Linked DNA regions of Homo sapiens: region 2 is linked to region 1. Evidence: fine-mapped expression QTL. A gene starts in region 1. The other region holds a variant in brackets. All regions are shown on one strand. Distances are between the middles of the regions.

Region 1 (5,335 bases):
TCCCCCAGCATCCAATAAATTCCTGAGACTTCCTCTGATTGGATCAGTGTGGTTCCTGTGGCTACCCATGAACCATTCCTAGTGGCAAGGAGGATGGGGCAATGGGGCTATCTGGGTGGCTGAGACCAGTAAGTCTCAAACTCTGGTCTCAGGATCAATTTACACACCTAGAAATTACTGAGGATCCCAAAGAATCTTTTTGACATGGTCTTTCTCTTGATATTTGCCAAATTAAAAATTAAAACTGAGAAATTTTTAAATATTTAATTTAATTTAAATATTTAAATTTTAAAATATTTATTAAGTCATTAAAATAATAAATCTGGCTGGGCATTGTGGTTCACACCTATAATCCCAGCACTTTGGGAGGCTGAGGAGGGTGGATCACCTGAGGTCCGGAGTTCTTGACCAGCCTGGCCAACATGGTGAAACCCCATCTGTACTAAAAATACAAATATTAGCTGGGCATGGTGGTACGTGCCTGTAATCCCAGCTACTTCTGGAGGCTAAGGCAGGAGAATCACCTGAACCTGGGAGGTGGAGGTTGCAGTGAGCCATGATTGTACCATTGCACTCCAGCCTGGGTGGCAGAGCAAGACTCTGTCTCAAGTAAAAAATAAATAAATAAAATAATAATAATAATAAATCCATTGCATGTTAATATATATTGATAAAAAATAACTTCTTTTTTTTAGACAGAGTTTCGCTCTGTCACCCAGGCTAGAGTGCACTAGCGTGATCTCGGCTCACTGCAACCTCTGCCTCCTGGGTTCAAGCAATTTTCCTGCCTCAGCCTCCTGAGTAGCTGGGATTACAGGCACATGCCACCATGCCCAGCTAATTTTTTGTACTTTTAGCAGAGACAGGGTTTCACCATGTTGTCCAGGCTGGTCTCAAACTCCTGACCTCAAGTAATCTGCCCACCTCGGCTTCCCAAAGTGCTGGGATCACAGGTGCGAGCCACCATGCCCAGCCAAAAAATAACTGGTTTTGGCTGCATGCAGTGGCTCACATCTGTGATCCCAGCACTTTGGGAGGCCCAGGCAGGAGGAACACTTGAGCCTAGGAGTTTGAGGCCAGCCTGGGCAACAGAGGGAGACTGCTGTCTCTACAAAAAATTAGAAATTAGCCTGGCATGGTGTTGGGTACCTGTAGTTCCAGCTACTTGGGAGGCTGAGGTAGGAGGATTGCTTGAGCCCAGGAGGTGGAGGTTGCAGTGAGCCAAGATCGTGCCACTGCACTCCAGCTTGGATGACAGAGTGAATCTGTCTCTAAAAAAGAAAAAAAAAAAAACGCTGCTGTCCTGGATTTGTAAGTAGCCTGAGTGACTCTTTGCTAGTCACTATTCAGAAGCTTCTCTGAGATCAGCCACTGACTTGGAGAGATAACAGTAAGGCTTTGAGATCTAGAGGCTGATCTTAGTCTGCTGTTTGGAGATCTCTGCCTTAATCCAGAATAATAGCTGAGGATGTCTCTGTGGCTGATGAAGAAAAGGAAGTTTGCAGGCCTGCTTGTCTTGCTGCCCAAGTGGGTCAACCTAATGTGAGTGGAGTGAATGAGGTAGTAAGGGCTTAACAGATGTCTTGTGATTCTGGGACAGGAGGCAGCTTCAAGTTCCTTTTCTTCCTCACCCCCACCTTACACCCATCCTTGGAAGCTGGGATACTGCTGACTCTCATGGCAGCCATAACGCTATCAGCGCCTGGCTTTGCCGACAAGGGGAATCTGGAAGAGAAGGGGAAGGACAGGGGAGACAAAGAGAGGTAAAGAGTGTTGCATCAAGCACATGTGTCAGAAGTGTTCAAACCAGAGCGCCTCCATTTTGAGTGAGGGCTAGAAAAATGAGGCTGGGACTTGCTAGGCTGCATTTCCTGAAAGCTAGGCATTCCTAGCCTCTAGGTGTTTATGGTTAAGAGAACAAATTAATAATGCTTACTAAACAGACCCAGACTTGAGAGAGTCCAGATATCCCGATATCTGGAGAACAAAGGCATTCCTAATTTTGCTTTAAAAATAATAATATTGATTATTGCAAAATATAGTAATTAGGGAAAATTAATCCTTTATCACAAACCCTTGTAGCAGAAGACATCTGCCCATATATACAAGCATTACAAGCATTGTACCTTAGTTGGATATGTCCCTCCTCTTATTTTCAGGAATGCCCTGCTGGAGTGCAGTGGCGATCTCGGCTCACTGTAGCCTCTGCCTCCCGGGTTCAAGCGATTCTCCTGCCTCAGCCCCGTGAGTAGCTGAGACAACAGGCTTGCGCCACCACGCCCGGCCAATATTTGTATTTCTAGTAGAGACGGGGTTTTGCCATGTTGGCCAGCTGGTCTTGAACTCCTGACATCAGGTGATCTGTCCGTCTCAGCCTCCCAAAGTGCTGGGATTACGCGTGAGCCACTGTGCCCAGCCACCACTTTACTTTCTTAATAAACTTGCTTTTACTTTGCACTGTGGACTTACTCTGAATTGTTTCTTGCGTGAGATCGAAGAACCCTCTCTTGGGGTCTAGATCGGGACCCCTTTCCTGTAACACATGGGCCTTGGGCTGATCTCCAAGATTAAGAGGGCAAGATACTCAGCTGCAAGGGTCAGCTGTCGCTGACCCCAGCAGCTGCTCTGCCTTGGCCAACTTACCGGATTTAAATCGCCCAGTGACAGCTTTTCCTCCAGTATTTTCAAAATGCTCCCAATATCCTCACGTTAGAACAATCCAGAAATAGTCTTATGGTAAAACTCTTTTGGGAAATGTGAAAGTAGAGTCCTCCCACCTTTTCCTTTGCAACGCTTTTGCCCCAACCTCGATCGCCCAGGCAGCACATTTTTTCCGGCACCCCCACCAAGGGAAGAACAGAGACATCTCCAAACCAGCTGCCCTGCGCCAAGCTGTTACAAAATAGAGCCACAAGTCTCCCGGTTTATGCAAACATATTTGGCTCGGTGTCTAGGATCTTCTTTTTCAAACTCAGAAGGAGATCACAGGCACACGGCCGCGGTGCTGTGTACGCCCCTCTGAAAGGAAGTTCTGCAAGTCGACCGACTTCACTGGCTTCACTGAAGTCCGGTCCGAAACCACCGGAAAGTTGCAGGCGCACAGTATACGTTCAGCTGTGTCCAAGAAATAACCTATCAATCACTGCCTTAAGCTTTGTTTCCTTCCTGAATTTTCTTATTTTCACGAATATTTATGCTTTCACAAACTGTATGTCATTTCCTCTCCAGAACCAAGGGGGGCTCGCCCCAGCCTGGCCCCCGCCCCGGGTGCGTCCCTGCAGGGGGCGCCCTGCTCTGGCAATGCCCACCGCACCGCAGGGCTGACTGGCCGCGCGCCCGGGGGCGGGGGCCGCCGCGGAGGCATCGTGCTCTCCGATTGGCCGTCCGCGTCCTCGTGACGTCAGACCCCGCCCACGCGCCCCTCCTCCGCATCTGAGCGGGGGAGCGGCGGCCCCCAGCTGAATGGGCGCGAGAGCGGCGCTGGGGGCGGGTGGGGGCGCGGGGTACCGGGCTGGCGGCCGGCCGGCGCCCCCTCATTAGTATGCGGACGAAGGCGGCGGGCTGCGCGGAGCGGCGTCCCCTGCAGCCGCGGACCGAGGCAGCGGCGGCACCTGCCGGCCGAGGTACGTGGCGCAGCCCCCTCCTCGGCGTCGCGGGGGCCCGCGGGCTGGGGGCTGCGGCGGCGACTTGTCTCTTCCCGGGCCGGCTGGGCGCGGCGTTTCCGCCTCGAACCCCGCGGGCAGCGCCCAGGGCACGACACCCTCAGGCGAGCCCGGCTGGGGCGCGGGCGGAGGGTCGTGGTCCCGGGCCGTGTGGACCGGGCGGGGGGTCCCACGCAGGTGTGTACGCGGTAGAGGGTGGGGCGGACCGCCGGGTGTCGGGTCCCGCCGCAGTGGCCCTTTCCCCGCCGCTTTCCGCTGCAGCTCGGGATTTAATTCATTGCTGGAAGCTTCGGAGTTAGCAGAGCCGAGTTAACTCGTTTTCCTGGGATGGGCTTAGGGAACCCCCTGCAAGGTTACTAGCAGCTCCTGAAACCTCTCTCTGCATCCATCGGGGAGGCGTGATGTGGGGCCGCTGGTAGAAATTTGCCGGTGACCTTCCCTGCACCCTCTCTGCAGCCAGCCTTGCGGAGAAGACAGGTTTTGGCGACCTTTTGATTTCTTCTGAATTGTAAGCCGTGGCTTGACGCGGGTGTGCATTCATTGTACGCCTTGCGTGTGTAAGTAACGCAGGGTTTTCCGAGAGCATCCCCGAGGAGCCCTGCCCTTGCCTCACACCCGCTTGGTGACCTTGGCAGACACTGATCCCCCTGTGGGGCTCGGGCTCATGGTCTCTCCTGAGAAGCTTACCCTGCCGATGGCCGAGGTCCCTTCCAGGCCCCGGGTTTTTCTAATCATAAAAAAATACGTTTACGAGGGTAGAGGATCCTGCAGAATCTCTAGCTGACTCGGAAGACGAATTTTATATCCTCATGTCTTAAGTCATGCATGCGGCTTTTGCTTAATTAGGCATCGTTCATTTGAAGGGGAAAATGGTTTTATGTGCTGCGCTTCATCTGGCACCAGTGGTTGCCTGCTCCTCGTGGCAGGGCCGTGCTGGGTGTCACAGAGAGGAAGGAGACTCATCTCCTGCCCTCTGGTGTTTAGCTGCCCTCCCCCGGGCTTATGGCTGCTAATCCTTTTCCACGGAAGGATACAGCTGCTGAAACTGTGGAAGAGGAATCCATTTCTGCTGCATGAAGGGGCACAGACTTGAATACAGTCAGGACAGGTTGTGGTTTCACTTGTGTAATCCTGAGAGCTTGACAGCTTCGAGGAGTGTCTAACATTGCTAGTAACAGAGCCTAGAAGCACCTGAATTCCAGCTGTCACTTGGAGAAGGAGAGATTCATACGAACTGCGAGAGCATATAACCAGCATGTCTTGAGTCTTTTACCCATGTGCCTGTTATATGGATGCTGCTGTTTTTGTAAGATGAAATGACCCTTGGATATTCTGGGTTATGATCAGCATTTCTTCGTCTAGGCGAGAAAAGAAACAGGTGAGATAGGAAGGCATGAAGGGGCTCATGGAAGAGAGAGGGCTGACAGGCAGAAATTTTGAGAGCTCACATTTACGACTATTTGGACAGTTCTTATAATTTTGGCATAAATTGTAAATTGTTGCATGTTATCAAAATAGATTGGTGATGAACGTTAAGGATATATCCGTGGCAGAATAAGAACACACTCTTTGTTCTTTGGTTTGCTCCTCTAGTTCTTCCCTGCTTGCCTTGTGGGACTATTTGCAGCAATGAGGGGAATTTATCTAGCAGGTTGGCCTCGGGAGGCAATGAA
Region 2 (5,372 bases), 120 kb before region 1:
TTGGTGTTATAGTTATTTATGATGTTCCCTCAGCCTCGAATGTTCTGGCCCCTTCTCTACAGAGTAAGCTCCTATTTATCCTTCAAAGACCCCTCTGCTTAAATCCCATCTCTTCTGTGAAGCTGTCATAGTCTGTAGTATGGTTCACCAGTACCGGCTTCCCCTCCCTGCCAGATGTTGGGCATGGCCATTTGACTTGAATGACTTCTAAGAGTTGCTTAATTCTTTGCCATGAATGACTTCTTTCCCTCTGGCCTGGTCACCAGTGCTGCTCCAGATGGTAGATGCTCTGGCCACCTGGCTCCCAGGCGCAAAGCCCCAGCCAACTCACAGTGCACAGGCTGCATGAGTAAGGAACAAACCTCAGCTATTTAAACCTCTGACATGTGGGGTTGCTTGTGACCCCAGTATAACCCAGTTTAGGGCCACTCCAAGTGTGATCTTCCTACTGCCAGGATCAGCAGCCCTGGGAGCATGTTGGAGATGCACACCTTGGACCCCACCCCAGACCTAATGAACCAGCCTCTCCATTTTCTCATAATTTGGTGCATGCTGAGCATGGCTTCTCTCCCATAAAAGCACTTAGTGGTGGTGGTTCCCCCCAACTCTTCCATGGCCTCTGAAGCAGGCCCTGCTAGTTGCTTCCTCTAGATCTATCCTCTCCTTCTTCCTTACTGAGAATTTGGATTTTATTGGTGGTGTCAGTGTGCTCAGGTTAAAATACTGTTTCCCAGACTCCCTTGCAGCTAGGGATAGTCATGTGACCCATTTCTTTCTCTGGACCAGAGGAAGGCACTGAATGAGACTTCGGGGAAAGCTTGTTCAAAAGGATAGGCCTAGCTAGGTGGCAAGTGCTTCTGGCCTTTGGCTTTGTTTTTCCCTTTCTTCCTGTCTGGAACTTGGATGTGGTGGTGGGGTGTTATGAAATGATCCCAGCGACTTGAGCCTCCTTGTATTCACACCGTCAGGTAGGCCCCACCAGCACTGAATCTGGGCTGGCCTGTGACTAGCTTTGACCAACTGAATGTGGTAGAAATAAGATTCAGGGACTTCTGTTCTGTTTGGAACCTGGGACCTGCCCAGGCTTGGGAGTCAATCACGTCTCTGTCAAGGGGAGAACTATTTGTGCAACTCATCATCATCCAGGCCAGAAACTGCCTCTTCATCTGCAGCTAATTGGTGACCAGGCCCATCCCTTCCCATGGCCCACATCTACCCTATGGTTGATCCATGGAACAGCTGCCTCTTGATCTCTTGCCCCTTCATCCCCACCCTTTCCACTGCTCCTCCCCACTTCTACTGATCAAGCCTGCACAGAGCAGTCAGATAGCTCTTTCTAAATGCAAATGTGAAGATCATTCCTCAGTGCTCTTAGGGTAAGTCCCAAGGCCCTGGCATGGCCTGCATTGCCATAGATGATATAGAGGCTCTAGCTCTCTGATTCCATCTCTAGTTACACCCCTCTCTAAATGCCATGGCCTCTGGACACACCATGCTACTCCCCGTTTCTGATACAAGCTATGCCTGTTAATACTCCCATGCCTTTGCCCCGTGGCTTCATGATGATTCGATGTCTCAGCCAGTTTGGGTTGCTGTAACAAAATACCACAGACTGGGTGGCTTAAACAACAGAAATTTATTTCTCACAGTCTGCAGCCAGAAGTCCGAGATCAAAATGCCCGCAAGGTAGGTTTTATTCTGAGGTCTCTTTCTTTGGCTTATAGGAAGCTGCCATCTTGCTGTGTGTTCACATGGCCCTTCCTCATTCCTCCACAAGGAGACAGAGAGAGACAGACAGAGGCAGAGAGAGAAGAGAGGAGAGAGAGCACGAGCACATGCTGGCACACTCTGATGTTTCTTCTTAGAAGGACATTAATCCTATTGGATCAAGACCCCACCCTAGGACTTCATTTAACCTTAATTACTTCCTTAGAGGCCCCATCTCCAAATACATCCACACTGAGGGTTAGGGCTTCAACATATGAATTTGAGGGGGGACACAGACATTCAGTCCATTATACTCAATTAGGGATGGCTGCCTAGAGAACTCTAAGCATCACAGCAGGCTGTGAGGTAGGGATGAGCCATCAGAGACAATTGAAAGTCTCTCGTGAAGGGTTCACCCTTCTCTTTCCTCCTCCTGTGTGGGATATGCTGCATCTGTCTTAGAGATGCTGCGCAGATGCCTATACTGGGGTCTGTCTGGATCACAGG[C/T]GGCTCTTCCTGCCACTGTCCCCTAGAACAGCTGAGGCTTTTGTCCTTCCTGCCATCTCCACTGCCTGCACCCCACCCATCCCAGCACTGCCACACCACCCTCTGGCTGCCATCACTTTGAATGAGAAGCAAATAGGTTCAGTGACTTCCAATCCTGCTAGAGCAGGGAAGGGATTGATTTGCCTTCTGACTGGAGGCAAGGGGGCCCATGTTAACCACTGCAATGTCACAGGCAAATCAAGAGCAGGCAAGGGTGTCTGCGACTGGGGAGCGGGGTGCTGTGGGGAATGGAGAAAAGTATTCAAGACTGAAGTACTTAGCATCGTTAAAACCATAAAGATGGAAAGCAGAATGCTGGTTGCCAGGGCCTGGGAGAAGGGGAAATGGGGAGTTAGTGTTTCATGGGTATAGAATTTCAGTTTTACAAGAGGAAAAGGGTTATGGAGATGGATGGTGGTGAGAGTTGCACAGCAATGTGAATGTACTTAATGCTACTGAACTGTACAGCTAAAAATAGTTAAGATGGTCATTTTTATATTATGTGTATTTCACTACAGTAAAAAAATTTTTTTGAGAATAAAAAGGACATACACTAGCTGTTAGAATGCAGCTCATGTGATTGTAAACGTGCATCTGAGTGTGTGTGGGGGCCTGTTCCCCTGCCCCCATGCTCAGCCAAGCTTCCTCCACCAGCAGCGCATGCCACATGGCCAAGCCCCCTGGGGACGGCTGCAGGTGGGCATCCTGCCCTGGCCATGCTCCTGCTCTGGTCCTGCTGCAGCCTCTCCCCATTGGGTGCTAATTTTCTGCCAGTGCCCCCTACCTAGCCCTGTGAGATGTGCTCATCGAGGCCATTGTGGGCTGCAGGACCATCCTGGGTCAGCTGCATGTTGGGAGGGCCAGAGGGGGGCAACTCTGTCTAGGTGGAAGATCAAAGACAGGCCTTCCAGGTGAGGGGCCAGGTAATAGGCACAGGAATGTGTGAGCATGTACAGGACAGCACACTCTCCCTTTCGCCTGAAGTGGATGGTGGGAGCACAGGGCAGAGGGTAGGGGGCGGGGAGACCCAAGCAGGAGTAGGTTGTTAGGGCTGGACTGGATAGTGAAGAGACAGCCCCAGGAGCCTGCTCTCTTTGGCTCGCAGCCTTGAGAAAGGAGCAAGGGCTTCCTGCAGCCGGTTCACACAGGGGTCCCTCTCCTCACTTGGGGGCAGTGTCTTACGGTCACTGCTGGGAGAGAAAGGAGTGGGGCCCAGCTCTGCTCAGGACCCAAGAGGGCCTAGAGCCCCACACTCAACAGGGGACTGGCCTTCAGCGAATTTCCCAAGGATGAAGGAAGGCTGGGAAAAGCCTGTGATCATTTCCCAGGCCCCTCACAGGCCTCCCAGGAGACCCATGCAGAGGGCGCTGGCCTCTGCACGTCCCCAGCATTTTCCTGGAGGTCACACTTTCCCAGCCAAGAAGGATGTCGAGTGCCTGGGAGCAGAGTCACAGAGGTGAGGACTTCCTTGGCCCTGCCCAGATGCCAGTGCCCTGGGGGAACAGCTCCCTGCCCAGGAGCTGGTGCCATCAGAGGTGCACTGAGAGGCGGCCAGGTCTACCTACACTCAAAGCCTGCTCTTTGGCATGCCCCAGTCCTGCGAGAAGGATCCTGGGTGACTCACTTTATGAGGCTCCTTGCTCTCCAACAAAGCTGTTTAATGTTTATTGCATTGTAAAAATCGAGCTTTTTCACATATGTTTCCTACCGCCCGCTGTGTCTTCTACAGTGGGCTCCCAGAATGGGGACTAGGGGGAGGCAGCAAAGGCAGTTGTCTGACATCTCACTCCCTACTTTGCAGCCCCTCTGCCTGCTCTGCCTCCCCTACTGACAAAACCCCAGTTTCAATCAGGCTGTAATATGTTCAGCTATAAGTGGCCTAAACCAATCATAGCAACCCCAGCCCCTGTGCTCTTGACTGGCCAGACCCTTATCAATGGCATGTAAGTAGCTTCTGGGAAAATACCTAGTTACATCCATAGGGAGAGGTCCATCCCCTTCTTCCCTTGGCAGTCACCTTGCTGCCACTGGCATGCCTAGAGATTGGCAGAGGGCTGACCTAGGGCCCTGGCATGGTTGAGTGGTTGTGACCCATTTCATTCTGCATTGTATTTTTTTTTTTGAGACGGAATCTCACTCTGTTGCCCAGGTTGGAGTGCAGTGGTGTGATCTCGGCTCACTGCAACCTCCGCCTCCTGAGTTCAAGTGAATCTCCCTGACTTAGCCTCCTGAGTAGCTGGGATTACAGGCACCCACCACCATGCCTGGCTAATTTTTTGTAGTTTTAGTAGAGACAGGGGTTTCATCATTTTAGCCAGGATGGTCTCGATCTCCTGACCTTGTAATCTGCCTGCCTCAGCCTCCCAAAGTGCTGGGATTACAGGCGTGAGCCACCAGCCTAGCCTCTGCATTATATTTTAAAGTTGATTTGCTGTCACCACTCTTACATTTTACAAGGAAGACAATACCTTTCACCATGTTCCTAAATTTAAGAAAACCTGCACAGTCCTCTTTTATAAGGTGAGTAAATGAAAGTGAGATCAATGAAGTCAGGTTTAATAATCACCTCAACTGGTAGATAAGATCAAATGCCTATGCCAAACACAATTTGCAGTTTTGTGTGAACAAAAGTTTTCTACAACACACATCCTGGCAGATGTTACTGTAACAAACATATCCTGGTCTCAAGATTGTAAGTCAATCAATGATCTTTAGGACTATTACTATTAGAACTAACACTATTTCAGAAAAACTCTATGCCCTTCTCAATAAAAAAACTTGGAAACTGAATTTTATGATAAAAATAGGGGGGACAAGGTATAGATTTAACTTACCTTGTTTGGTAATAGGTATGGAAATATTTGCTAACTTTTCTTTGTCTTATAATGGCTGACTCAGAGCTTGTCTTCCTAAAGCATGTATGTCATTAGACACCCATTCTGTCATAGTTCTTCAATAACTATGGATTCAGACTTGCAGGCTTGAGCTTGGATTAAACTCTTATAGCCAAAGCTGAGTTTAAAAATGTATGGCTTGTAAGTTTTTGTTTCCACAAACTCATGAGCCAATCTTGGAACTCCTACTTCTAGGTCTTTGTTATATTAATTATAATATAATTA

The links.
Region 2: its variant is fine-mapped to the expression of ST3GAL5 in whole blood (TOPMed, PIP above 0.99).

The regions. Positions count from the first base shown.
Region 1 is chr2:85,887,112-85,892,446 of GRCh38, reverse strand. ST3GAL5 (ST3 beta-galactoside alpha-2,3-sialyltransferase 5) reads left to right here and starts at 3,457. Exons shown (of 7, transcript NM_003896.4): 1 at 3,457-3,623. The coding sequence starts at 3,542. ST3GAL5-AS1 (ST3GAL5 antisense RNA 1) reads right to left here and starts at 3,167. Exons shown (of 3, transcript NR_110569.1): 1 at 2,644-3,167; 2 at 1,242-1,271; 3 at 195-756. RefSeq lists silencers at 3,056-3,675, 3,716-3,835 and enhancers at 4,006-4,085, 3,777-4,277, 4,616-4,745, 4,756-4,875.
Region 2 is chr2:86,010,081-86,015,452 of GRCh38, reverse strand. No RefSeq gene overlaps it. Among named protein-coding and RNA genes, the nearest start is that of POLR1A, 93 kb to the left of the region's middle. RefSeq lists an enhancer at 2,833-3,333. The variant C/T (reference allele first, on the strand shown) is at 2,215.